Regions from separate parts of the Homo sapiens genome. Here all the other regions are linked to region 1. Evidence: fine-mapped expression QTL. A gene starts in region 1. Each other region holds a variant in brackets. All regions are shown on one strand. Distances are between the middles of the regions. Region 1 holds the start of KDM2B (lysine demethylase 2B). Region 2 overlaps KDM2B (lysine demethylase 2B). Region 3 overlaps KDM2B (lysine demethylase 2B). Region 4 overlaps LOC124903037 (a long non-coding RNA gene).

Region 1 (8,110 bases):
GCTCCCGCCCTCCCTCGGTCCGCCTGTCCATCTCCAGGTCCCTCTGTCCGCCGGCCCCCTGGCTCTGCCCACCCTGGGGCTGGTGGTGGGCGCGGGCCGGGCCTAGGCCCATGCCCGGCCCCCCTTACTGCCTGCCCTCCTCCCTCACCACCCCACCCCACCCCCCCAGTGCTCGGCCTCGTTTCGTCACCGGATCCCCTGGAATGGGGGACGCGGGCGCGAAATACGAACCCAGCCACCGGCAGCTCCCTCCCCACGTGCGCTCGGCCCGCAGCGCAGAGGGCGGCCCGGGGTGGGGGCGCCTCACCTTTGCCCTCCATGGCGTGCACGAAGTCCCCCTGGTACAGCTGGCTGCGAAGCTTCTCCTCCAGGCTGAAGCCGCGGACGCTGACGATCTCCTCCACGTCCGACAAGTCCTCGTTCTCGTCGTATCGCTGGCGGTCAATCGGGCGCTGCGAGGACCCAAACCAGAGAGCCCGGGACATTATTGTGGGGGCTGGAGGTCGCCTCTCAACCTGGGCCCAGCACTAACAGGTGCAGCAGCCGAGCGCCCCCTGCACCCCACCATTGCAACCCAAGCAACTTTGCGCAATTGCCAAAGATGCTGAAAAGCAGGACAAGGAGAGGGGCCCGCACCCCGAGGGTCCAGCTGCGCTCTACGCGGGGTACTCCCCTCCGGTGTCTTCGGAAGCACTGAAGGGACATCTGGGGACCCTCCCCTGCCCCCCGCCCCCGAAATGTGCTGGGCTTCGCCCACTCGGCCGGGAGCCTGGTTATGTAACCCGCGAAGGGGGCTCCGGACACGGGCTGGCGGGGCAAATGTAGGCCCCAGGAGGAGCCGCTGCGGCGCCCGGCTCGGCGGTAACAGCAGCCCCAGCGGCCGCGGCGGCAGAGCCGGGAAGCCGGAACCGGGGGCCGGCGGCATTTCTAAAGCTGGAGCCGCCCCCGAGCTACCGGGGAAGCTGGAAAGCTGAAATGGAAGGGCTGAGACCCCAGCCGCCCCCGCCGCCCGCCCGCCAGTGCAAGAAGAGGAGGTGGGGGGAGGAGAATCGGGGCTTGGAAGGGGGAGAGGCAGACGGCCCGCCACAAAGCTCGGATCGGAGACCCCAAAACGCACCAGCAGCTGCCTCATCTCCCCACAAGCGCGCGCGCACACTCACTTCCTAAGGAGACTCCCCCACCACTCCCCGCATCCCCCTGCCTCCTCCCTCCACCGCCCAGCGCCCGGCCCCTCAGCCCCCCAGATTCCGGGCGAACCCCGAGCCCGCTCAGCCCCCCTCCACGCCTTTCCCCGATACCACCTCCCCACTTAAGTGTCTGAGACTCTAAGCCTCACAAGGGGCTGGAGGAGTAAGCAGCTTGCTTCCTTTTGCATGCAATTTATTATATTTTTTTCCCGGTCCTCTTGCAAAATACAGAAAAGGAAAGAAAAGGCAGCGAGAAACAACCAAAAAAAAAAAAAAAAAGATCTATCATATGCCAGATACAGATTTGGAAAAAAAAAAAAAAAAAAAAAGCTACACACCAATCTTCTTCCAGAGTCTTTCTCTGCCTCCATTTTTTTAGGAGAGTTCACCAATTAATTGTCAACACTCCTGCCCCCTGCATTTTGGCCGAGGGGGGAAGGAGGGAAGACCAAAGAAAACAAACCAAAAAATAAATAAATAAAGCAAGCCAGAGCCGAGATCTACAAAGTTTTGCACCAACACTTAGGCAGATCCGTTTGCAAAGTCCTAGGAAACCATTTTCAGCAGTTGTGGGGGGGGGGAGGCGTCGACGTCATAATCCCCGGAACGTAAACATTGTTGCCGATCGCGCTCGGAGCCCGCGGCCGGGCTATTTGGGGGGGCTCTCGGCCCGGGCTTGGGGGGGTGGGGGCGGCGGCCCGAGGAGGTATGGGGCGGGGAGGGAGCCCGGGAGGCACCGGGCGCCGTTAGCGCCGTGGCATCGCTGTTTTGTTGTTGGGTCACGAGTGCGCCTCTGCACGCAGGCGCCGCCGCCGCCCGGGAGTTGTGTGCAGAGCTGACTTTTGGAGGGCCGAGTTGCAGGCGGCGGGCGCATCCCGGAGATGGCGGGGCAGGGAGGGAGGGAAGGAGGAGGGGGCGGGGAGGGAGGTGCAGATTTGCACGGCTGGCCTCAGCGGGAGGCGCGGAAATGCAAGCCGAGCATGCTGGCGTGAAAGCCCCCGGGGCCTGGCACCCCCAAAAACGACCCCCCACCTCCGTTCCTGCCCTCATTGCCCAGGGCTACCCCTCTTCCTCTTCTTTCATCCACCCCTCCCCCAACATTACCTGTGTGGCCGACTCAAATTCAAAGCATTTTGTATATATAACTGTTTTCTTTTTTTGCTTTTCTGCTGCATGTCTTTTTCGTGGGGGGTGATCCTCTGCAGATCCCCCCATTTGCGGACCCGCCATGTGGAGGAGGCATTTGGGGGGCTCAGAAGGAAATTAGCTCGGCTTCCATACCTATAAGGACTGCCTAACTTTTAAACTCCCGGCACTCAAAGATGTGGACACACACACGTACAGGAAATACAGCCAGACCAGAGCCTTTGCAGTCCGCAGCTGACCGGAAGACGTTGCCTTTCATTCATTCATTCTGCCCGCCTCTGTGGACTCCTTTACTAGGCGACCAGCCCTGAAACAGAAGTTGGACATTTTTTAAAGGTTCTTGCGCTCGGCAAGGGGAGCAGATAGATGCTCAGGAGCGAAAGACGCAGAGAATTGGATCTGGCGCCTCCTAACGCAGCCCGCACAGGAGCGAAGGGTAAGCCCTTGTTGGTAGTTTATAGAAGACAAGTCGGTGGAAAGGTGCATGGTGCTCTGGGATAGGTGGGGGGAACTCTAGTGCCCTTGATGAAGCCCCTACAGGGCTTCTTAGCGGAGGTATCGGCACCCTCCGTACATACATGGGTGTCATTAGGTCCCTGTCCACTTACTAGTGTTTTTGACTACCCCAGCACTGGTCCTGGGTTGTCTTGTCCTCCCATCATGAGCAACAGTCAGGTCGACTTGGCTTGAGAAAAGCTAGCCCTAAACATTCCTCCAGCCCCAGCTGTGGCGCCCTGCTAGGCCTGATCTTGCGGGTAAAGATGCTGATAAAATGACATGGCAAGAGGGAGACGATAAAGGGACATTGTAGATAGCAGGCTTTGAGCCTGACATTTTATTTCTGCCATAACCCTGTGGGATACTTGGAGCAGGTCATTTTGCAGATAGGGAAACTGAAGCTCAGAGAAATTATGAATCTGAATGATTGCTGTGCTCCCATATGGTCCCCAGGCTATCAGACAGACCTGTGGGGAGGACGTGGCTTCCCCACCAGGAGATACGATGTCACTATCAGCATCGTATTGGCCGTCCTAAGAGACAGCTTCCCCCTCACTCACCTTAGAAGTTTCCTGTCCTATCTGACTGTAGTCTTTCCCACCCATCCTCAAAGGCTACTCTTTGAAGTTTGTTTTCATTCATGTTCACTAGCTGTAAAAATCTTTTAAGCAGGGATGAGGCTGGGAAACATCAAAATTTGTTTCCAAACTGAAATCGCCCACGTTGGCTGCTGCGTGCAATCAGTAGCCCTTCGTGTGAGTGCTGCCGGTTCTGCCTTCAGTCCGTCCAGAACCATGGACCATTTTATTTGTTCCTGTCTTTCTCACAAGAACCCTTTAAGGGAAATCGTCTTGTTCGTTCCCATTTTGCAAAGGAGGAAATTAGGACTAAGAAAAGCAAAGCCACTCACCCAGGATCACATAGCGCGTATGTGCCGCTGCCAGGGCTCACACTGGAGCCTGGCTTGGCCATCACGTGCTTTTTTTTTTTTTTTTTTTTTTTTTAGTAACTTACCAGCCTCACTACTGCCCCATAATGAAATAAACATGTTCAAAGGAGGCTGCATGGGCTGGAGAGTGACGCAAAGTGAATTAAGTGAAATAAAGCAAAAAATATATAATAGAATGCTTCATCTAATTAATTCTTTTTTCTCCCTGAGGCCCTTCTTTCTCTCCAAGTGGCCTCATAGTGGCCCCAAAAGCTGGCATCAGAAAAAGGTCCAATGGCAGCCACCTTAGTATAAAAACAGTTAAGTCCATCTATCACCTCCACGAGGAGTTCCTGGCCTGTCAGAGTGGGAAGGGGCTGGGTAGTCACCTCATTTAATCCCCCCCCTTTACAAACCTCGAGGAAACCGCAAACACGAGAAAAGAATGGGCCAGCCGGGGGTTTGTTCCCCTTGGCCTCCCCCAGAATGCCTGCCCTGCTGCCGGGTCCTAAGTGGCCACTCAATAAATGTTGGGCCCTTGATGAATCACCTTCCCCCTCGATATTTGCATTTTCTCTTTATCAGTAATTGGCAGATGAAAGGCTTTGTCCTCCAGTTGAAAGAATTCCAAGCATTTGCTCAAAGTGGGGGAGGAGGTTATTTTGGACCAAAGGGGGAAGGGCCAAGACCCTGGAGCTCCCAGTGTTGACTAATTGTCCCAGAGAAGTGGAGAGTAGGTAAGGGAAGAGAGAAGGTGAAGGTGCTTACCCCAGAGATGTACTTTTTCTTGCAGGAAAACACCGGGCCGGTTGTATTGGAAACATAATAATAATTATTTCCTGGACCCTCCTGCTCGATCTTACAAAGGGCCCAGTCAAATCCTGCCTGAGTTACCCCCATTCATTCTTCATTCATCAAAGGTTGATTGAGCAACTCTGTGCCCAAAGACAGAGAGGCTAGAGAAAAGAAGATGCAGCGTGGGGCATGCAGATTGGGGCATACTCGAGGCTGGGTAGGACGATGGACCTGCAGCTTCCCAAGGAAAGGGTGGACACTGGATGTAGCTCTCAGAAACCAGAATCTTGATAAGAAATTGAAGTTGTTCTCATATTCATATATGATTATCATAACTCCTGATTTTTCTTTTCTTTTTTTTGAGAGAGGGTCTTGCTCTGTTGCCCAGGCTGGAGTGCAGTGACACAATCTCAGCTCACTGCAACCTCCACCTCCTGGACTCAGCAATGCTCCACCTTAGCCTTCCAAGTAGCTGAGACTACAGGAGTGCACCACCATGCCCAGCTAATTTTTGTATTTTTGGTAGAGACAGGGTTTTGCCGTGTTGCCCAGGCTGGTCTCCAACTCCTAGGCTCAAGTGTTCCTCCCACCTCGGCCTCCCAAAGTGCTGAGATTACAGCCGTAAGCCACCACACCTGGCCCTGTTTTGTTTTAATTTAAGGATATCTAATCATTCCACATCAGCATATGTGGAATGCTATAGCACATCAGCTATAGTTTCCTTATTCTTTCTAATGATTTCATAGCATTTCATTGGGCAGATAAATGGTGCAAGAATGATTTAATTAGTTCCCTAACTTTTAGATGGTTTTCAATCTTTTTCTATTGCAAACAGAGCTATAAGGGATTGCAGCTTTGTGCTTGAGTCTGTCAGTAGAATATATATCTGAAAGTGATCATCCACGTCTCAGGATTCCTACCCTATCACCAACTATTTGTCCTTGAGAAGTTTATTTGTAAGATCTGAGCAGGTGGGACAACCTCATATCCAACTGGTATCCCCAGGAGTCTACGCAGTGCCATGCCCTTGGCAGGCACTCAGAGAGAGTGGTTTAAGGGCTAACACTGCAAGCATTCACACTGTAATCAGATGGCCTCTTCTAGGAAACCTTTGCTGATATCCTTGGCCCCCTTTCCCCATGGACCCTTCATTCATTCCACAAATGTTTGTGGAAGGTTGATTAGGGGGACCCTGTATCAAATCAGCCTCTTAGGTATATATAGCCTGGTAGGTGAGTTAAAACAAATTCTGGAAAGCACTCTAAGGCTGTGCTGTTTGATGGGATACATTAGCTACATACAGCTACTTAAATTTAATTAAAATAAAATGTAAAATTCAGCTCCTTAACCCAGTACCTACATTTGAAGGGGCTAGAAGTGACAGCACTGAATGGTGCAGATACAGAATATCCCTATCATTGGCTGGGCGCTGTGGGTCACACCTGTAATCCCAGCATTTTGGGATGCTGAGGCAGGTGGATCACCTGAGGTCAGGAGTTCAAGACCAGCCTGGCCAACAGGATGAAACCCCCGTCTCTATTAAAAATACAAAAATTGGACAAGCGTGGTGGTGCACACCTGTAATCCCAGCAACTCGGGAGGCTGAGGCAGGAGAATTGCTTGAACCCAGGAGGCAGAGTTTGCAATGAGCTGATTGCACCACTGCACTCAAGCCTGGGTGACAGAGGGGGATTCTGTCTCAAAAAAAAAAAAAGAATATCTTGAATAACTCTATCATCTTCTGTGGGACAGCCCTGAAGGGAGGCTTAGCATAGTGGGCAACCCTGTGGGCTCTGGATTCCTGTAAGCTCTGAGTTCGAATCCTATCATTATTTCCTAGCTATAAAATTTGGCCAAGCAAGTTAACCTGTCTTTGAGCCTCAGCCATAAAGGTGGGGAATTACAGCCCCTTATGGAGATTTGGCAAGGATTCAAAGGTACTGCAAATGTGAGGGGCTTTGCACAAAGTCATAGTAATATTATAAAAAATCTGGAGTGAAGCCAGGCGCAGTGGCTCATGCCTATAATCCCAGCAATTTGGGAGGCCAAGGCGGACAGATCACCTGTGCTCAGGAGTTCGAGACCAGCTTGGGCAACATGATAAAACCCTATCTCTACTAAAAATACAAAAATTAGCTGGGTGTGGTGGCGTGCGCCTGTAGTCCCAGCTACTCAGGAGGCTGAGGCACAAGAACCGCTTGAACCCAGGAGGCAGAGGTTGCAGTGAGCCAAGATCATTCACTGCACTCCAGCCTGGGTGACATCCCGAGACTCCGTCTCCAAACCAAAACGAAACTAAACAACATGCAGAATACTAATAATACTAAGTTGTGCGGACCATGTAAGGAAACCAAAAGGGTTATGTCTGTATCTACATGCTTTTTTTTTTTTTTTTTTTTTTGTGAGACAGAGTCTTGCTATAACACCCAGGCTGGAGTACAATGGCACAATCTCGGCTCACTGAAACCTCCGCCTCCCGGGTTCAAGCAATTCTCCTGCCTCAGCCTCCCAAGTAGCTGGGACTACAGGCGCATACCACCATGCCCGGCTGATTTTTGTGTTTTTAGTAGAGACAGGGTTTCACCATACTGGCCAGGCAGGTCTCAAACTTCTGACCTCAGGTGATCCGCCCATCTCGGCCTCCCAGACTGCTGGGACTACAGGCATGAGCCACCGTGCCCGACCCATACATTCTTTAGTATGTGCAGAATTTCCTTTGGAAAGATCAAAAAGTGAGAAAAAGAACTGGGAAAAGAGAAGAAAGCCTATTTTTTGGTAAAGTGATATTTTTACCACATATGTACATGAACGGTGCCTGATTTTAAACCTTATTGACTTAATCTCATTTTAGATGCTGTAGTACCTCTTGAATTTTGTACCGCACAGATGTATTACCTACTCAAAAATAATTCCATTTTATTCCTTTTTTAAGTCTATAAGATTCAAAATCAGGCAAACCTAAACCAAAACTAAATTTTTTTTTTTTTTTTGAGACAGGGTCTTGCTCTGTCACCCAGGCTCTGGTGTGCAGTGGTGTGATCACAGCTCACTGTAGCCTCCACCTCCCGCGCTCAGGCAATGCTCCCACCTCAGACTCCCGAGTAGCTGGGACTTGTAGGCATGCAAGACCAGGCCCAGCTAATTTTGGTACTTTTTGTAGGGACTCTGTTTTGCCATGTTACTCAGGCTGTTCTCAAACTCCTGAGCTCAAGTGATCCACCCCTCAGCCTCCCAAAGTGGGGGATTACAGGCTAAATATTCTTTAGATATAGATACATAAGTCACAAAACAGGAATAAAAGCAAGGAATGATTAACACAAAATGCTGCAAAAGACCATTCAGGAAAGGAATGTGAACAGAGATACTAGTGACTTTCTGTTTCTTAATCCACCTGCTGGGCATCTAAGACTGTTCCTTAAAGTATAGTTAAATATTTTTCAGATTCTATTGTATTTATGAGATATTCCACAATTTTTTCTTTTTCTTTTTTTTCTTTTTTTTTTTGAGACGGAGTCTCGCTCTGTCGCCCAGGCTGGAGTGCAGTGGCATGATCTCG
Region 2 (5,000 bases), 130 kb before region 1:
CGAGCAGCGGTCAGACACGCGGGCCGGCACGCAGGGGCCTGAATCGAGCGCAGGGCTGGGCGGGGGCCGCACTCACCGCGATGCACTGCCGCATGATGCAGCTCTGCTTCATGCGCCCGGGGCCCCCGAACTTCTTCATGTCCTTGCAGAAGTGGCACTCTCCGCACTCGGTCCGCAGGCAGGCCTCGCACTTGCGGCATCGCGTCCGGCGCCGCCGAGCTCCTGCCGTTGTCCGGTTGGCGGCCAACTTCACCGCGGAGGCCGGGCCCAGCTTCCCCTTGGGCCGACCCACAGCCCGGTTCTGCAGGGGAACAGACACGACTGGTCAGATGGGGAGACTGCAGGCACGGCCAGACCCCCGGAAAGGGTGTTAGGGAGCAAACTGTGTACCCCCAGAAAGACACGATGGGGGCTCTAAACCCCATTCCTCAGAGTGTGATCTTTATTTGGAGATGGGGGCTTTGCAGAGACCGTCAGGTTAAACGAGGTAATTCAGGTGAACGCTAATCCAGTATGACTGGTGTCCTTACGAAAGGGGAACTTTTGGACACAGAGACAGACACGCACGTAGAGAACGTGTGTGAAGACACAGGCCTTCCACAGACTGGAGCCCTGTCTACAAGCCAAGAAGTGCCAAGGATGGCAGCACATACCAGGAGCTGGAGGCGCGGGGAAGGACCCTCCCCTAGAGCCCGCAGAGCCAGCCCGGCCCGCCAGCCCACACCTTGACTTCAGACTCCTGGCCTCCAGAACCGGGAGAGAAGAAAGGCCGGTTGTTTTAAGCCACCCGTTATGGCAGCCCTAGGAGAGGACGACAGAGGGCGCGTGCTTCTTGCCGCAGCACACAGCTCGAGACCTTCCATGGCTGCACCCACAGGCTCGGACCCTGCCCACCTTTCCCACCTCCGTCTGCTCCCCAAGAAAGACCGCAAGGGGCCACACAATCGGTCTCTGTTCCCCCAGCCCGGAAGGCCAACCCCACCCCCGCCCAAGCCACTTGGCTGATGCCCACTCATTCCGTCTGGTCAGTTTACAGGCTGCTTTCTTCTGGAAGCCCCTACTGCCCACCTGCACTGGGTTCAGGGCCCCTCTGGGAGATCCTGTTAGAGCGCTCATGATGGTAATCATCTGTTCCTTCCCTTTGAGACGGGGCACAGGAGGGCACTCACCACAGGTGTCTTGTGCACCACTGCACCTCTCTACGAGCCAGCCTGGCATGCAGAATGCACTCAACAAACCAGAGCCACCCCAGGGAGGATGGGATAGTAACCTTTAGGTCCCTGACTACTCAGATCTTCCCTAGATGGGCTCCAAATGCTCCCTTCCCTGGGACTCACAGAAGAGAGAGACAGTAGGTGGACAGAGAGCTGGGCTAGTAGCTAAGCCAGGAAAATGGGACAGCCACAGCCCCTGCCCTCTGGTTCCCAGCCCCAGAGCCTCCTGCAGACCCATGATCTACGGGGGAGCCCTAAGCTAGCTGCTGAGGACACTGTCCACAGAGGTCCCCTGTCCACCTGGGACCTGTAGTGGGAGGGACCAGGATGGGAGAGCTTTTCTTGTCTGTGGCATCTTTCTGGAGAGCCTGGGGTGGCTGAGAAATGGTGAAGTCCCTGTCAGGGAGACACGTGGTCACCCTGGAAACCAGCTGACCTAACGGCATCTAACGCCTAAAGCCCCTTTTCAGCTAACTGAACACCCTTTGGTCCAGAGTCCCACCCTCTTCATTTCAGTGACTTGTCATACTTGAATCCCCAAACAAAACCCCATACTTTTGGGAGCACACAGACCCAGAAGAGCTGTTACTATTCATACACTCCAATGGAGAAGAAGGTCCACATCACAGGGACCCCCTCTCACAACACACACAACTCCCTGCACCCTAGGGGCTTCCTAGAAACTTCCAACTGCATAGGAAGAAAAACAGCCCCCCTTTCTCCTC[A/G]AATACAGCCTCGCCACCATCAACTTTCTTCTCCAGTGCAGTGGTCCCTGTAGAAAGCCCGCAGCCTCACGTGCCACCCACTTTGCTGTCAACACCTAAGCAGACCCCTCCCTCCGATTCACCTTCCCACAGCATTCAAGGAGCTTCCAGGCCCCCATCAGCCCGAGTGGCCCCTCAGGAAGCACTGGAGCTCTGGGCCTCTACCCTGCTCAACCTGCTGTGAACCCCAAAGAGGAAAGGGAGGTGCTCCCCGGCTCTACCACCCTCATCTCCCACTGGTCTTCCCCAGCTGCTCAGGACCCTCAGTCATGCCTGCCCTCTGCTCTGGGGCAGCCCAGCAGAAGGCCTTGTCACAGGGAGGGCAAGCCCTGGACTGCAGGGCCACCCACAGGCAAGCTGGCCACCACCAGTCACCTGGGTAAAGGGACCATCCAAAGCAGCAAAGGGCGCCAGGAACGGTGGCTCACGCCTATAAGCCCAGCATGCTGGGGTCTGAGGTGGGAGGATCACTTGAGGTCAGGAGTTCAACATCAGCCTGGGCAACATAGTGAGACCTACAAAAAATTTTTAAAATTAGCCAGGTGTAGTGGTGTGCACCTGCAGACCCAGCTACTCAGGAGGCTGAGGTGGGAGGATTGCTTGAGCCCAGGAATTTGAGGTGGCAGTGAGCTGTGATCATCCACTGTACTCCAGCCTAGGAGACAGAGCAAGACCCTGTCTCAAAAAACAAAAAAGGAAGAAATCCATCCTTACAATGAGGGCCGGATGCCCCCAACATACTCGCATAGTCCCACTGCGATTAGCACCTTTCGGGGGCCAAGTCCACCACACACTACACACATCCATCCGAGTCACGTCTGGCTGCCCACGTGAGAAGTAAAACGAGATCAGTTTTCAGAGCTTCCTGGATTTGAGAATGGCACAGAGCAGACTGTGAACCTGAAGCTGAGCAGCCAACAGAGCAGCCAAGGCCAGGCAGGCAGCGCTAAGGACCGAGATGACGGCCATGCCGCGTGAGGGCAGGGATTCCCTGAGCACCCCCATCTGCGGGCACCGTGGCCATCACTTTACTGATGATATTACCTAACTTTCCCAATAACAGCACTGCAGAGGATGCCTTCCTGAAGCCAGTAATTTGCCTGTGGTCATGGAACCAGCATGATGCGTGGACTCCGGTGCTGTGCACTGAACACACTAAACCACAGCAAATGCATGTGCGAAGTGCAGCGAGGGGCCCACAGACCCACTGGGATGGCCACATGCTCCTGGAAGGGCTTCCCAGCTAGTGCCACGATGCCTCAGTGCGAAGGGTGCCAACAAGAGGTGCAGAGAAGCACGGCTACTTCCAGAGAAGCGGAAATCCAAAAACGTTTCTCCCTGTCATCACAGCCTACAATAGCACTTTCTGATTCTACCCCTCCAAACGACAGGTGCCCTGTTACCAGCTCACTCTTCAAATACCTGGAACACAGGCAATGCTATGGGCGGCGTCTAAGGCCTCCAGTCAGGTGTGAAGTGGCCAGCGTGTGGGCCACCTCCCAGGACAAAACCAGATCCCCGGAGCTGGAGAGTCTAAAGACGAGCTTCTCTGGTAAAAAACTGAAAAAATTCCAGGAGTTCAAAGGAACGCCAGGTATCAATAGCCACTGAGTGCCTCTGGCCTCCCTGCCCCGAGGACAGTGTCTGGGCAAGTAAAAACGTTGGGCCAATCCAGTCTGAGTCTCGAAGCTCCTATGTCACTGCAAAACAAGCCCATTTGCCTGCACCAACCAAAGCACCTTCTCATCCAGCCTATGGAAAACAACCTGCCTGGACCTCAACAGCAGTTGAGACATCTGGGAAAATCACAGAGCACATACCAGACAACATCCTGAAAGAAGAGGTGTGAGAAGCTGCAGTCTCTCGAGACCTTGATGAGGCCCTGTCTAGCCGCTGCCAAATCAGGCCAGGAAGGTTTCTGCTGCCGGCAGTGGCCCCCGCCTGGCTCATCAAGAGTTGGTTCAACAACAGAGCAACGCAGGATCCTAATGAAGCCCACTGAAAAACCCACAGGTAAGACAGACCTCGGAGGCCTCCATTAAAAAGTCCAACTGGGACTCTGAAGACCCAACCAGGAAACGTGATGGCAGAATACAGAAAACAGTGACACAAAAAGGGACAAATGGAATAAAAAGGAAGGTGAGTCTGCCAGAGCTCTCTCCTTTCAGCACACAGCTTTCTCTGTCCTGATATCTTTTGGGTGCTACCCAAAGTTTCAAACGCCAATTCTTTTCTTTTCTTTTCTTTTCTTTTTTTTTGAGATAGAGTCTCACTGTGTCACCCAGGCCGGAGTGCAGTGGCGTCATCTTGGCTCACTATAACCTCTGGCTCCCGGGTTCAAGCAATTCTTGTGCTTCAGCCTCCCGAATAGCTGGAATTACAGGTGTGCGCCACCAAGCCCAGCTAAGTTTTATATTTTTAGTAGAGATAGCATTTCGTCATGTTGGCCAGGCTGGTCTCAAACTCCCGGCCTCAAGTGATTTGCCCGCCTCAGCCTCCTGAAGTGCTGGGGTTACAGGCATGAGTCACTGTGCCTGGCCTCAAACACCAATTCTAACTTCCACTCTGTCCTACCCCTGTCCCAGCAAAGGAAGTGACGGCATCCCCAGACATTCATTTACGAACCAGCATCCCCAACACCAAGGCGACTTGTTGATTTTATCAGCCCAGGAACCATATCCTCAGCCCACTATGAAAGGTTAGGAAGATCGGAAACATACACACACACACACACACACACACACACACACACACAAATATCTTGGTATTCCTACACCTCTTCTCCATCAGCAACTCAAGAGCATTGTCCTTTAAGTGAATGCTATCAAGGTTTATTCATTCATCCCACCAATATTTGAGTTCCTCTGGTCTACCAGATATTATCCACCAGAAAATGCATGGACAGAACCTCCTCAATCCCTCAGCTCTAAATTATAGGGATTAAAATTACTTAGATTAACCTAAATTAAAGGAAAGACATCCGTGTTCATGAATTGGAAGATTTAATATTGTTAAGATCGGT
Region 3 (5,000 bases), 27 kb before region 1:
CCGCCGGGTGTGGTGGCGGGCGCCTGTAGTCCCAGCTACTTGGGAGGCTGAGTCAGGAGAATGGCGTGAACCCGGGAGGCGGGGTTGCAGCGAGCCGAGATCGCGCCACTGCACTACAGCCTGGGCGACAGAGCAAGACTCTGTCTCAAAAAAAAAAAAGAAAGAAAGAACCCCGGTACCCTCCCCACTCTCGCTCTCTGGCCAGCCTCCCACCTCCACCCACTTCTCCTCCCTAATCTTGCTCAAGGTCATGTCTGCAAAGCTCCCTGTGCAAAGGAGTCTGCTGGGCAGGTAGCAAATAGGATAAAGAGCACTAAAATCACGAACCCAGAGTCCTGCAAGTCAGCACTGAAGGCCAAGCTCAGCTACCCCTACCCACACACTGTTAAAATTTAGAGGGTTCGGTTCCCAGCGGAGCCTCCAGCCTGTGCCTCGGGCTCTTGGCTTCTCTGGGAATCAGTTTCTTCTTCATCTATAACATGGGGAACAAATAGCCAGCCCAGGAGCTGTCCTGAGACATAACTGAGTTCATGCACTTCACACTCACTTGGAGCACCTACAGGTAGGTAGCGTTACCGAGTCGGTCAGTTTCATCTGTAACTAGAGGTGGAGAAGGTGAGGAGCTGGGAAGTTTAGGGACTTGCCCAGCATCACAGCCAGTTAAATCGTTGCTGGCCAGTCCCAGTGAACAGACTGCTTAGGACCCTACAACATATTCAAGATGCAAATGGGTGTGGGGTTCTTCTGGGGAATGATGAAAAAGTTCTAAAATGGACTTTCATAATGGTTGCACAGCTCTGTGAATATACTGAAAACAAGTGAATTGTGGCCGGCCTTGGTGGCTGGTGGCTCACACCTGTAATCCCAACAGTTTGGGAGACAGAGCTGGAAGGAGCGCTGGGCCCTAGAAGTTTGAGATCAGCCTGGGTAATATAGTGACACCCCAGCTCCACACACACACACACACACACACACACACACACACACACACACACACACACAAATTGGCCAAGCATGGTGACCCACACCGGTGGTCCCAGCTACTCTGAAGGCTGAAGTGGGAGGACTGCTTGAGCGTCAGGAGGTTGAGGCTCCAGTGAGCCATGATCGTGCCACTGCACTCCAGCTTGGGCAACAGAGCCAGATCCTGTCTCAAAAAAAAAAAAAGTGGGGTGAAATGAATTGTATGGTCTGTGACTTATATTTCAATGAAACTTTTTACTTTTTTAAAATGGAGAGTCTCAGAGATGGCAAGTAATCTGGGAGTGTTTCCAAATAAATGTATACCTTGTATATATCATGATACTTGCCCTTTGTAACATACTTTTTTTTTTTTTTGAGACAAAGTCTCTCTTTTGTCCCCCAGGCTGGAGTGCGATGGCGATGGCGCGATCTCGGCTCACTGCAACCTCTGCCTCCCAGGTTCAAGCGATTCTCCTGCCTCAGCCCCCCGAGTAGCTGGGATTACAGGCGCCTGCCACCACGCCCAGCTAATTTTTGTATTTTCAGTAGAGACGGGGTTTTACCATGTTGTCCAGGCTGGTCTAGAACTCCTGACCTCAGGTGATCCACCTGCCTCAGCCTCCCAAAGTGCTGGGATTACAGGCGTGAGCCACCGCACCCGGCCTGTAACATACTTTAAATTAACACTTTTATACTCTCATTTAATCCCAGGTATATATACCTCTCTCACATGCACACAGGTATTAATCCACAAGTTATGATTTTCAGTCTTAGTCCAAATGTGGACCAGAAAAAACAAAAGAACATCTGCATCTGGGATTCATGCAGCACTCAAATATTTGATGAATGCAAGAGTAGGCTGAGTGTGGTGACTCACACCTGTAACCCCAACACTTTGGGAAGCTGAAGCAGGAGGATCACTTAAGCCCAGGAGTTCAAGACCAGCCTGGATAACATGTCAAGACCCCATCTCTACAAAAAATTTAAAAATTATCTGTGCATGTTGGCAGACACCAGTATTCCCAGCTACTTGGGAGGATCACTTGAGCCTGGAAGGCAGAGGCTACAGTGAGCAATGGCTGTGCCACTGCACTCCAGCCTAGGTGACAGAGTGAGACTCTATCTTAAAAAATAAAAAATTTTAAAAAACAGTAGATAGCAATCCTATTTTATAAAAAATGGATACCAATTTAAAATAATGTTTAATCATATCATTTAGTTATGAGGATATAGTAATTTACAAAATTATACCTTAAGACCCTGAAAATGTTATTTATTTTGCAAGTGTCAAAGTATCAAAAAAGAAAGAATAACTAGTCTGGGGTAATTTTATTTTTTTCTTTTGAGACAGAGTCTCGCTCTGTCTCCCAGGCTAGAGTGCAGTGGCACGATCTCAGCACACTGCAACCTCCACCTCCCTGGTTCAAGTAATTCTTGTGCCTAAACCACCAAAGTAGCTGGGATTACAGGCGTGGGCCACCATACCCGGCTAATATTTGTATTTTTTGTAGGGACGGGGTTTCGCCATATTGCCCAGGCTGGTGTCAAACTCCTGGGCTCAAGTCATCTGCCCACCTAGGCCTCCCAAAATGTCTGAGATTATAGGCGTGAGCCACCACACCTGGCCAAAATTTTTTATAAGAATATAAATAAGTAAGTGATATAGTTTGGATATTTTTCCCCCCCAAATCTCAAATCTCATGTTGAAACATGAATATCTCTCAAATATCTCCA[A/G]TGTTAGAGGTAGGAATTGGTGTGTGGTGTTTGGGACGTGAGGGTGGATCCTTCACGAATGCCTTGGTACCCTCCTTGCATAAAGAGTGAATTCCCACTCTATTAGTTCCCATGAGACTGAATTGGGTTTTTGTTTTGTTTTTTTTGTTTTTTGTTTTTTTTTTGAGACGGAGTCTCACTCTCTCACCTACACTGGAGTACAGTGGCACGATCTCGGCTCACTGCAACCTCTGCCTCCCAAGTTCAAGAGATCCTCCTGCCTCAGCCTCCCGAGTAGCTGGGACTACAAGAACGCACCACCACGCCTGGCTAATTTTTTGTATTTTAGTAGAGATGGGGTTTCACCATGTTGGCCAGGCTGGTCTTGAACTCCTGACATTGTGATCTGCCCTCCTCAGCCTCCCAAAATGCTGGGATTACAGGGGTGAGCCACTGCACTCGGCCTGTTTTTTGTTTTTTGAGACAAAGCCTCACTCTGCTCATTAGGCTGGAGTGCAGTGGCTTGAACATGGCTCACTGTAGCCTCAAACTCCTGGGCTCAAGCGATCCTCCTACCTCAGCCTCCCAAATAGCTGGGGCTACAGGCTGGATTATTTAGAAGCATTTGGCACCTCCCTCCTCTCTCTCTTGCTCCCTCTGTGGCTATGTGACACACCAGCTCACCCTCCCCTTCCATCATGACTGGAAGCTTCCTGAAGTCCTCACCAGAAGCAGATGCTGGCTCCATGCTTCCTGTACAGCCTGCAGAGCTGAATCAAATAAACCTTTCTTTATAAATAATCCAACCCAGCTGGGCACCATGGCTCAAGCCTGTAATCCCAGCACTTTGGGAGGCCGAGGCAAGTGGATCACTTGAGGTCAAGAGTTTGAGACTAACCTGGACAACATGGTGAAACCCTGTCTCTACTAAAAATACAAAAATTGAGCCAGGCCTGGTTATGCGCACCTGTAACCCCAGCTACTCAGGAGGCTGAGGCAGGAGAATCACTTGAATCCAGGAAGCGGAGGTTGCAGTGAGCTGAGATGGTGCCACTGCACTCCAACCTGGGCGACAGAGTGAGACTCTGTCCTTAAAAAAAAAAAAAAAATCCAACCTCAGGCATTCCTTTATAGCAACACAAAGTGAACTAAGCCAGTAAATCAATAAAAATGTAATTTTAAAAAGAAAAAAAGGTTGTAGGATTAGCTAAGATTATGACCCAGATCGAACAGTAGACGCAGGGAAGGCACTAACCAGAAATCAGCACCCTCCCCTCCTCAGCCTACCCAGTTCCCTGTAATTTGCTAACGGTTTTGGCTACCCACGTACCTCAAGGGGTACTGTGAGTTGAACTGCACTCCCCCAAAATATATGTTCAGTCCCTAATATCTGTGATACAGGGTCTTTGCTGACGTGATCAAGCTAGAATGAGATCATATGGGATTAGGGTAGGCCTAATAAGACAAGAGAATTTTTTTTTTTTTTTTTTTTTTTTGAGACAGAGTCTCACTCTGTTCCCCAGGATGGAGTTCAGTGGTACAATCTCAGCTCATTGCAACCTCTGCCTCCTGGGTTCAAGCGATTCTCCTGCCTCAACCTCCCGATTAGCTGGGATTACAGGCGCCTACCACCACTTCCGGCTAATTTTTTTGTATTTTTAGTAGAGACGGGGTTTCACCATTTTGCCCAGGCTGGTCTTGAACTCCTGACCTCAGGTGATCCACCCACCTCAGCCTCCCAAAGTGCTGGGATTACAGGCGTGAGCCACCGTGCCCAGCCATGACAAAGGAAATGTGGACACAGACACACAGAAGGAAGACAGCCACGTGAAGACGGAGGCAGAGATCAGAGTGACGCAGCTACAAGCCAAGGCGCACTAAGCACTGCCAGCCACCACCAGAAGCCAGAGAAGGCAAGGAAGGACCTGCCCCTAGAGACTTCAGGGGGAAATGTAGCCCTACAGACACCCTTAATTTTGGACTTCTAGCCTGCAGAAGTGTGAGAGAATAAACTTCTGTGGTTTTAAGCCACTCACTTTGTGGTACTTTGTTATGACAGCCTAGGAAACTAATCGAAGGGTTAGTGAGAGAATGACTGGGTATACCTACATGGCTCCATAAATGTGACATATTTACACAGGGGAGGGCTGGTCCCTCCCCTTGCCTCCCTCCCAGAGCCTGGTATAAGCGGATCACGGGGCCAACACCTTCTATAACGAAATCGCAGTTTACCTAGTAGCTTCACAAACAGAAAGGTGTCACCCACTGATGACCTCATACCACTTCATCCTAAATACCGTATTTCTTGGTTACTTGTTTCTTGT
Region 4 (8,110 bases), 200 kb before region 1:
GAGTGCAGTGGCACTGTCTCTGCTCATTGCAACCTCCACCTCCTGGGTTCAAGCAATTCTTTTGCCTCAGCCTCCAGAATATTAGAGGGATTAGGGTTGGGATTACAGTTGCCTGCCACCATGCCCGGCTAATTTTTGTATTTTTAGTAGAGATGGGGTTTCACCATGTTGGCTATATGCTGGTCTTGAATTCCTGACCTCAGGTGATCTGCCTACCTCGGCCTTTCAAAGTGCTGGGATTATAGACATGAGCCACCATGCCCAGCTTGATCCTATTTCAAATAAATAAATAAAATAGACACAGTATTGGCCAAGATTTGAGTAAATTAATAAGCGCTGATCAGAGTGCAGAGAATTGGGCTGTTTCTATACAAAACCAATAGAAATGCAAATTGATACACCCATTCTCTGGAAAAATTTGAATGTAGCCTGGACAACATAGCAAGACCCCCATGTCTTTAAAATAATGAGAACATCTGTGTTCTAACGCATAGTGCTTAGCTTTTTTTTTTTTCTTTTTTTTGAGAAGGAGTCGAGCTCTGTTGCCCAGGCTGGAGTGCAGTGGCACAATCTCGGCTCACTGCAACCTCTGCCTCCTAGGCTCAAACAATCCTCCTGCCTCAGCCTCCCGAGTAGCTGGGACTACAGCTGTGTGCCATGCCCGGCCTCTGGCCAGCATACTTTTTAAAAATTGGAAGACTCGGATGGGCACGGTGGCTCACGCCTGTAATCCCAGCACTTTGGGAGGCCAAGGTGGGCGGATCACGAGGTCAGAAGATGGAGACCATCCTGGCTAACACGGTGAAACCCCGTCTCTACTGAAAATACAAAAAATTAGCTGGGCATGGAGGCGTGCGCCTGTAGTCCCAGCTGCTGGGGAGACTGAGGCAGGAGAATGGCGTGAACCGGGGAGGTGGAGCTTGCAGTGAACTGAGATGCCGCCACTGCACTCCAGCCTGGGCGACAGAGCAAGACTCTTTCTCAAAAAAAAAAAAAATTAGAAGACTCAGTAAATGTTAAGTCTGGCTGTTGTAATTGTCAGATGTACATCAAAATGCTGGTACTGCTTATCTTTAAGTAGTGGAATCGTAATTTTAATATTCTTTTGTACACTTTTCTATATTTCTACAATAATGCATTTTCCTTTTGTAATCAGAAAAAAAAAAGAAAATTAAGATTTCGGTCCTCATAGCCGTCTTTATAGTCAACTTTCTAAGCAAGATAACTTTGCTTAAGGTAATTCTCACTGCTGTGGGACAGTGATTCCATATTGGATAAAGGCTTCGATATTTTTGGAAAGGCATCCCAATCTTTGCTACCCTCTCTTCTAATAAGAGTCGAGGTGAACACTATCAAACAACTGAAAAATACTTCTATCAGGTCAGCGCTCCAGGATATTTCTATTCTTAGACATAATAAGATTTGGAGAGCAGTGCTTTAGAGGCTGGGCAAGAATTTTAGAAAGCTAAGGATTACAACAGATCTGGACATTTCTCCCCCATCCCCATTAACAGTCATGAACTGAAAATTTCTATTAGGGGTCATTCATTTACAGGAAAAACAACGAAAACCAAGAAACTTGGATTATGTCATTCATCTACTAACATTTTTTATGGCACCCCTGTGCCTATTCTAGTACCTACACATTACTCAGCCAGGCATCTGAGGTCATTTTAAAGATAATTTTCAGGCAGGTGTGGTAGCTTAGGCCTGTAATCTCAGCATTTTGGGAGGCTGAGGTGGGAGAATTGCTTCAGCCCAGGAGTTCCAGACCATTTTGGGCAAGAGGGCAAAACTCCATCTCGACAAAAATTACAAAAATTAGCCAGGTGTGGTGGCGCCCACTGGTGGTTCCAGCTAATCAGGAGGCTGAGGCAGGAGGATCGCTTGAGCCCAGGGGTGGAGGCTGTAGTGAGCCGTGACTGTGCCACTGCACTCCAGCCTAGGCAACAGAGCAAGACCCTGTCTCAAACAAAAAAAAAAGTGATATTCAGAGCGACTTGAAACATGGATCTGAATCTAGGTACTGGAGTTTCCACTTTCAGCTTCGGGACTATCAGTTCACACCCAGCTATAAACATATCGAGCAAATTCCTAGAACTCTTCTATGAGTGTCATATCAATATACACACCTGCATATGTGTACTGCTGAGCCACCGCGCCTGGCCAAAAGTATTTTTTTCAAGCGTCTAATGGTGTAATAATTAGCCATTCAAATTAAAGGGGCCATTCTAAAGAATTAGCTTCAGCAGGTGGTGTGGCTCAGGCCTGTAATCCCAGCACTTCGGGAGGCCAAGGCAGGTGGATCACCTGAGGTCAAGAGTTCGAGACCAGCCAGGCCAACATGGAGAAACCCCGTCTCTACTAAAAAAACCATGAAAATTAGCCGAGTGTGGTGGTGTGCACCTGTAGTCCCAGCTACTCAGGAGGCTGAGGCAGGAGAATTGCTTGAACCTGGGAGGTGGAGGTTGCAGTGAGCTGAGATCTTGTCATTGCACTCCAGCCTGGACAACAAGAGCGAAACTCTGTCTCAAAAAAAAAAAAAAAAAAAAGTTGAAGTAGGGGAGATAAGAATTAAATAGAATTGAATCAGTTGAAACAAAAAAAAATTCAATACAAGATGAAAAGAGCTGTTTTGGAAATCTTGGCAGCAGTGCTGAAAAGAAAAGGCTATTTTATTAACCTTTTAGCAAAGACATAGTCAGATGTGTGTTCAAGAATACCATTTGAAATTATAGTCTTACAAAATTACTACAGGCAGCCAGGAATGGTGGGTCATGCTTGTAATCCCACCACTTTGGGAGGGCGAGGCAGGAGGATTGCTTGAGGCCAGGAGTCTGAGACCAGTCTGGGTAACATAGTGAGATCTTGTCTCTACAAAAAAAAAAAAAAAAAAAACGGGCCAGGCATGGTGTCTGTAGTCCCAGCTATTCAGGAGGCTGAGGGGGGAAGATCACTTGAGCCAGGAAGGTCAATGCTGCAGTAAGCCATGATCTTGCCACTGCACTCTAGCTTGGGCAATGGAGCAAGAGCCTGTCTCAAAAAGAAAAAAAAAAAGTACTGCTACAAGTATTGTGACTCTAGAAGGTGTAAGGGTTTCAGAATGAGGATGGACAAAGGTTGACATTTTTGGGAACAATTATTAGGCACATGTATCTCTTTTTTTTTTTTTTTTTTGAGATGGGGTCTCACTCTGTTGCCCAGGCTGCAGTGCAAATGGTGCAATCTCGGCTCTTCGCAACCTCTGTCTCCCGGGTTCAAGCAATTCTCTTGCCTCAGCCTCCTGAGTAGCTGGGATTACAGGCGCACGCCACCATGCCTGGCTAATTTTTGTATTTTTACTAGAAATGGGGTTTCACCATGTTGGTCAGGCTGGTCTCTAACTCCTGACCTTGTGATCCACCCACCTCGGCCTCCCAAAGTGCTGGGATAACAGGCATGAGCCCCCCGTGCCCAGCCTAGGCACATGTATATTCTTACATGATTGTAAATGAAGGTGGTGATGGATAAGAGTACTAATCTTTTTATCCTGCATAGTCTGAAATTGGAATTTTCAAGGCAACTCTTCTTATCACAACCATCTGAATGTCTCCTTCCCTGAATGTCTACTTTATTCATTTATCAGTTGATAATGTTCGTATTTCATTGCGTCTGTCTAATTTGGCTATAAATGTGCAAGAGCGTCAGCCTGTCTGCCTTGGATTGTAAACTGTTAGAGGAGAGAGGCAAGGTTTAGCTAATTCTCTGTGTGAATCATTTAGCATGGCATAGCACTACACACAATCAAGGTTTTAATAAATGTGTTGATTATGATCTTTGAAAAAAGGCTTAGTCCCATTTATCGTCTTCTCGACCTTGTCAGCACTTCTCAAGAGGGTGGGGAGAGTTGACTTAATCTACATTTTTTTTTTTTTGAGACAGAATCCCACTCTGTCATCCAGGCTGGAGTGCAGTGGTGTGATCTCGGCTCACTGCAACCTCTGCCTCCCCAGGTTCAAGCAATTCTTGTGCCTCAGCCTCCCAAGTAGTTGGGATTACAGGTATGCGCCACCA[T/C]GCCCGGCTAATTTTTGTATTTTTAGTAGAGACAGGGTTTCACCATGTTGAACAGGCTGGTCTCAAACTCCACACCTGAAGTGATCTGCCCGCCTTGGCCTCCCAAAATGCTGGGATTACAGGCGTGAACCACCGCACCTGGCCTACTTTTAATACCTGAAGCTTATGCTAAATACGATAACTGCAACGTATCAGTGACGTCTGTTGGTGAATGTCTGAAATGTATTTTCACATTTCTGTAGCTGTTTGAGATGATATTACTTATATGGTACTTGGACACTTGACTTGAAGTAAATATGTTTTAAAATTGAATCACTTCAGTGTGAAATTCAAATTTTGTGGAATCCAAAAATATTTATTTTGACTTTTGCCAACTGTTATTGGGGATGGAATGCCTAATCCTTGAATTGTAACTTCAACAGAAAGGTCTCATTACCAGCACAGGGGTGAACAAAGGCTCAAGGAGACAGGAGACTTCTATATTTTGCCTCTTAACTATTTTTATTACAGTCAGTGATGTTAATCTCTAAAATATCCCAATAAATTAATGTAATCACTGCAGTTTTCTTTTTTTTTTTTTCTTTTTTTGAGACAGAGTTTCACTCTTGTTGCCCAGGCTGAAGTGCAATGGCACGATCTTGGCTCATTGCAACCTCCATCACCCGGGCTCAAGCGATTCTCCTGCCTCAGCCTCCTGAGTAGCTGGGATTACAGGCATCTGCCACCACGCCCGGCTGATTTTGTATTTATAGTAGAGACGGGGTTTCTCCATGTTGGTCAGGCTGGTCTCGAACTCCCAACCTCAGGTGATCTGCCCACCTCGGCCTCCCAAAGTGCTGGGATTACAGGCGTGAGCCACCATACCCAGCAGTTTTCTATCCATTCTATCAATATTCTATGCATTCATTCATATTTATTAAGTTGTCTATTATGTGCTAGGTTTTGAAATGTATAAAGAAGATGAAGGCCAGGTGTGGTGGCTCACACCTGTAATCCCAGCACTTTGGGAGGCTGAGGTGGGAGGAACACTTGAGCCCAGGGGTTTGAGATCAACTTAGGCACCATAGGGAGACCCTGTCTCACAAAACTTTTTTCAATAATTGTCTGGGTATGGTGGCATGTGCCTATGGTCCCCGCTACTCAGGAGGCTAAGGCAGGAGGATTGCTTGAGCCTAGGAGGTTAAGGCTGTGGTGAGCCATGTTTGTGCCACTGAACTCCAGCTTGGGCAACAAAAAGAAGGTAGACATGGTAACTGCCCTCATGGAGTGTAAAGTCTATCCAGACAAGTAACCAGTTACACAGTGGGCTGCATTTGTGGATGGGAGGAGATGTTGACTAGAGAGGAACAGACACAGACACACACAAACACACACATTTCTGGGATGACAGAAATGTTCTTATTTTGTTCTGGGTGAGTACATGAATGTATTCAGTCATCAAAACTCACCAAAGTGGCCAGGTGCGGTGGCTCACGCCTGTAATCCCAACACAGGCAGGAAGATCACATGAGGTCAGGAGTTCGAAACCAGCCTGGCCAAGATGGTGAAACCCCATCTCTATTAAAAATACAAAAATTAGCCAGGCATGGTGGCACACGCTTGTAATCCCGGCTACTTGGGAGGCTGAGGCAGGAGAATCACTTGAACTTGGGAGGCGGAGGTTGCAGTGAGTCGAGATTGCGCCACTGAACTCCAGCCTGGGTGACAGAGGGAGACTCTGTCTCAAAACAAAAGCAAAACTCACTGAACTGAACACTTAAGTTTCGTGCATTTTATTATACCTTAATTGCACTTCAATTTAAAAAAAAAAGCAGAAAAGAAAAACCAAGGTAGCAAAATAGCGATTATAATACGGTATGACAGTGAGTATCGTGTATGATGTACATGTGTATCAGTGTGCCTGACAACTTTAGGAGTTAAGAGTACAGCTCCTTGAGAAAGTCTACAGAGCTGGTAGCTAAAGGTTGATTAAAGATAGCCAGTCCAGGAAGCCAATGAAGCGCTTCCTCTGAACTTGGAAGAGATGGGGAATTTACATCTCAAAAGAGCTTGCCTGTGCAAAGGCCCAGAGGTAGGAGAGTATGACCCACTGGGGCACTGCAAGCAGTTCAGTATGGTTACAGTGGAGGTTGTGAGGTGAGGGTGGTGGGAAGTAGGCCTGGAGGGGTGAGCAGGGAATGGACGATAAAGGACCCTGTAACACTATTTTAATAAATTTGGACTTTTTCATGAGGCCATTGGGAAACCCTAAAGGAATAAATGTGTGTGTGTGTGTATATATATACACACACACACACATTTATGAGTGAGATCTTGGCTCACTGCACCCTCTGCCTCCCGGGTTCAAGTGATTCTCCTGCCTCAGCCTCCCAAGTAGCTGGGATTACATGTGCGCGTCACCATGCCTGGCTAATTTTTGTATTTTAAGTAGAGACAGGGTTTCACCATGTTGGCCACGCTAGTCTTGAACTCCTGGCCTCAACTGATCTGCCCACCTCAGCCTCCCAAAGTACTGGGATTACAGGCATGAGCCGCCTTGCCCCACCATCCCAAAGGAATTTAAACAGGAAAAGACAAAGTCAGACTTTTCGTGTAAAGAGGCTTTTGTCCTCAGGATAGAGAGCAAACCAGAAGTGGGGATGACTAAGCAGGTGGTGGGGGTGGTGGGGTAGTGCAGATTGGAGCTCAAGCTCCTGCAGCTGCAATGAAGCAAGAGAAACAGTAAGAGCCATGGGCCAAGGGGATGAAGAAGTAGATGGATGTGAGTGGTGCACAGGGCTAGAGCTGCTCAAAGGCAAAGTCAAGGATGACTTGCAGTTCTCTAGCATGGTGCCATAGAGCATGGTAGGGAACCCAGGAAGAGGAGCATGGGTTGGAAGGAAGTGGGTACTGAGCTGACAAATCTGAAACGCAGGGAAGAGACGGATTGGCAGAGGCTCAGGAGACCCATATACAGACCTAGACAGGGAATTCCTGAGAATGGTTACCTATCTGGAGTACAGGGTGAGGTCATCCAGAAGAATCTGTCGAGTGAGAAGTGGAAAGGCCTGCAATACTTGTATCAACACCAAAACTTGAAGGGTGGGTAGAGGAGATGGAGAAGAAATTGCTCAGAGAGACAGAAGGAAAACCGAGAGAGTAGAGTAGGTGGCCCAGCACGGTGGCTCACGCCTGTAATCACAACACATTAGGAGGCTGAGACAGGAGGAGTGCTTGAGCCCAGAAGTTTAAGACCATCCTGGGAAACATAGGGAGACCCCGTCTCTACAAAAAATAATAATAAATTAGCTGGATGTGATGGTGCACATCTGTAATACCAGCTACTCAGGAGGCTTAGGCAGGAGGATTGCTTAAGCCCAGGAGGTCAAGGCTGCAGTGAGCCATCATGGTGCCACTGCACGCCAGCCTGGGTGACAGAGTAAGATCCTGACTCAAAAAATTTATTTATTTATTTATTTATTTATTTATTTATTGAGACGGAGTTTTGCTCTTGTTGCCCAGGCTGAAGTGCAGCGGTGTGATCACGGCTCACCACAATCTCTGCCTCCCAGGTTCAAGTGATTCTCCTGCCTCAGCCTCCTGAGTAGCTGGGATTACAGGCATGCACCACCACACCCGGCTAACTTTGTATTTTTAGTAGAGACGGGGTTTCTCCATGTTGGTCAGGCTGGTCTCGAACTCCCAACCTCAGGTGATCTGCCCACCTCAGCCTCCCGAAGTGTTGGGGTTATAGCATGAGCCGCTGAGCCTGGCCAAAAAATTTTTTAAGAAGAAAAGAAATCTGAAATCTATTTCATGTTATATCTGAAATAGACATGATATGCTTTCTCTTAGTTTTCTAAAAAATATGTTTAAACCCTTTTCTGGTTTAGAATTTACTGTAGTTTGGAGTATAAGATTTGTCCAGGTAAATTCCCAACATCCTTATCAAGGAGTCATCAGATAGTTTCCGTCTTTGAAGCCTGGGTTGTCTTTGAATTTAGAGCAAAGAATGGTTGGAGTTTTTCCAAAGTTGCCAGCAAAAAGCATGCGTTTAAGAGGTCAGACTTGGCTTCTG

Evidence for each region.
Region 2: its variant is fine-mapped to the expression of KDM2B in whole blood (TOPMed, PIP above 0.99).
Region 3: its variant is fine-mapped to the expression of KDM2B in whole blood (TOPMed, PIP above 0.99).
Region 4: its variant is fine-mapped to the expression of KDM2B in whole blood (TOPMed, PIP above 0.99).

Annotation. Positions count from the first base shown.
Region 1 is chr12:121,578,495-121,586,604 of GRCh38, forward strand. It overlaps KDM2B (lysine demethylase 2B), which reads right to left and starts at 2,529. Exons shown (of 23, transcript NM_032590.5): 1 at 2,292-2,529; 2 at 308-452. The coding sequence starts at 2,417. KDM2B-DT (KDM2B divergent transcript) reads left to right here and starts at 2,017. Exons shown (of 4, transcript NR_183427.1): 1 at 2,017-2,769. RefSeq lists silencers at 571-650, 1,810-2,119, 2,200-2,249 and enhancers at 1,819-2,754, 3,690-4,625, 4,626-5,559.
Region 2 is chr12:121,453,044-121,458,043 of GRCh38, forward strand. KDM2B (lysine demethylase 2B) reads right to left here. Exons shown (of 23, transcript NM_032590.5): 13 at 77-301. Among named protein-coding and RNA genes, the nearest start is that of MIR7107, 11 kb to the left of the region's middle. RefSeq lists an enhancer at 1-695. The variant A/G (reference allele first, on the strand shown) is at 1,940.
Region 3 is chr12:121,553,084-121,558,083 of GRCh38, forward strand. All of the region lies in intron 4 of KDM2B (lysine demethylase 2B), which reads right to left. Among named protein-coding and RNA genes, the nearest start is that of KDM2B-DT, 25 kb to the right of the region's middle. The variant A/G (reference allele first, on the strand shown) is at 2,698.
Region 4 is chr12:121,381,858-121,389,967 of GRCh38, forward strand. The region is part of intron 1 of LOC124903037 (a long non-coding RNA gene); the gene reads left to right. Among named protein-coding and RNA genes, the nearest start is that of RNF34, 14 kb to the right of the region's middle. The variant T/C (reference allele first, on the strand shown) is at 4,054.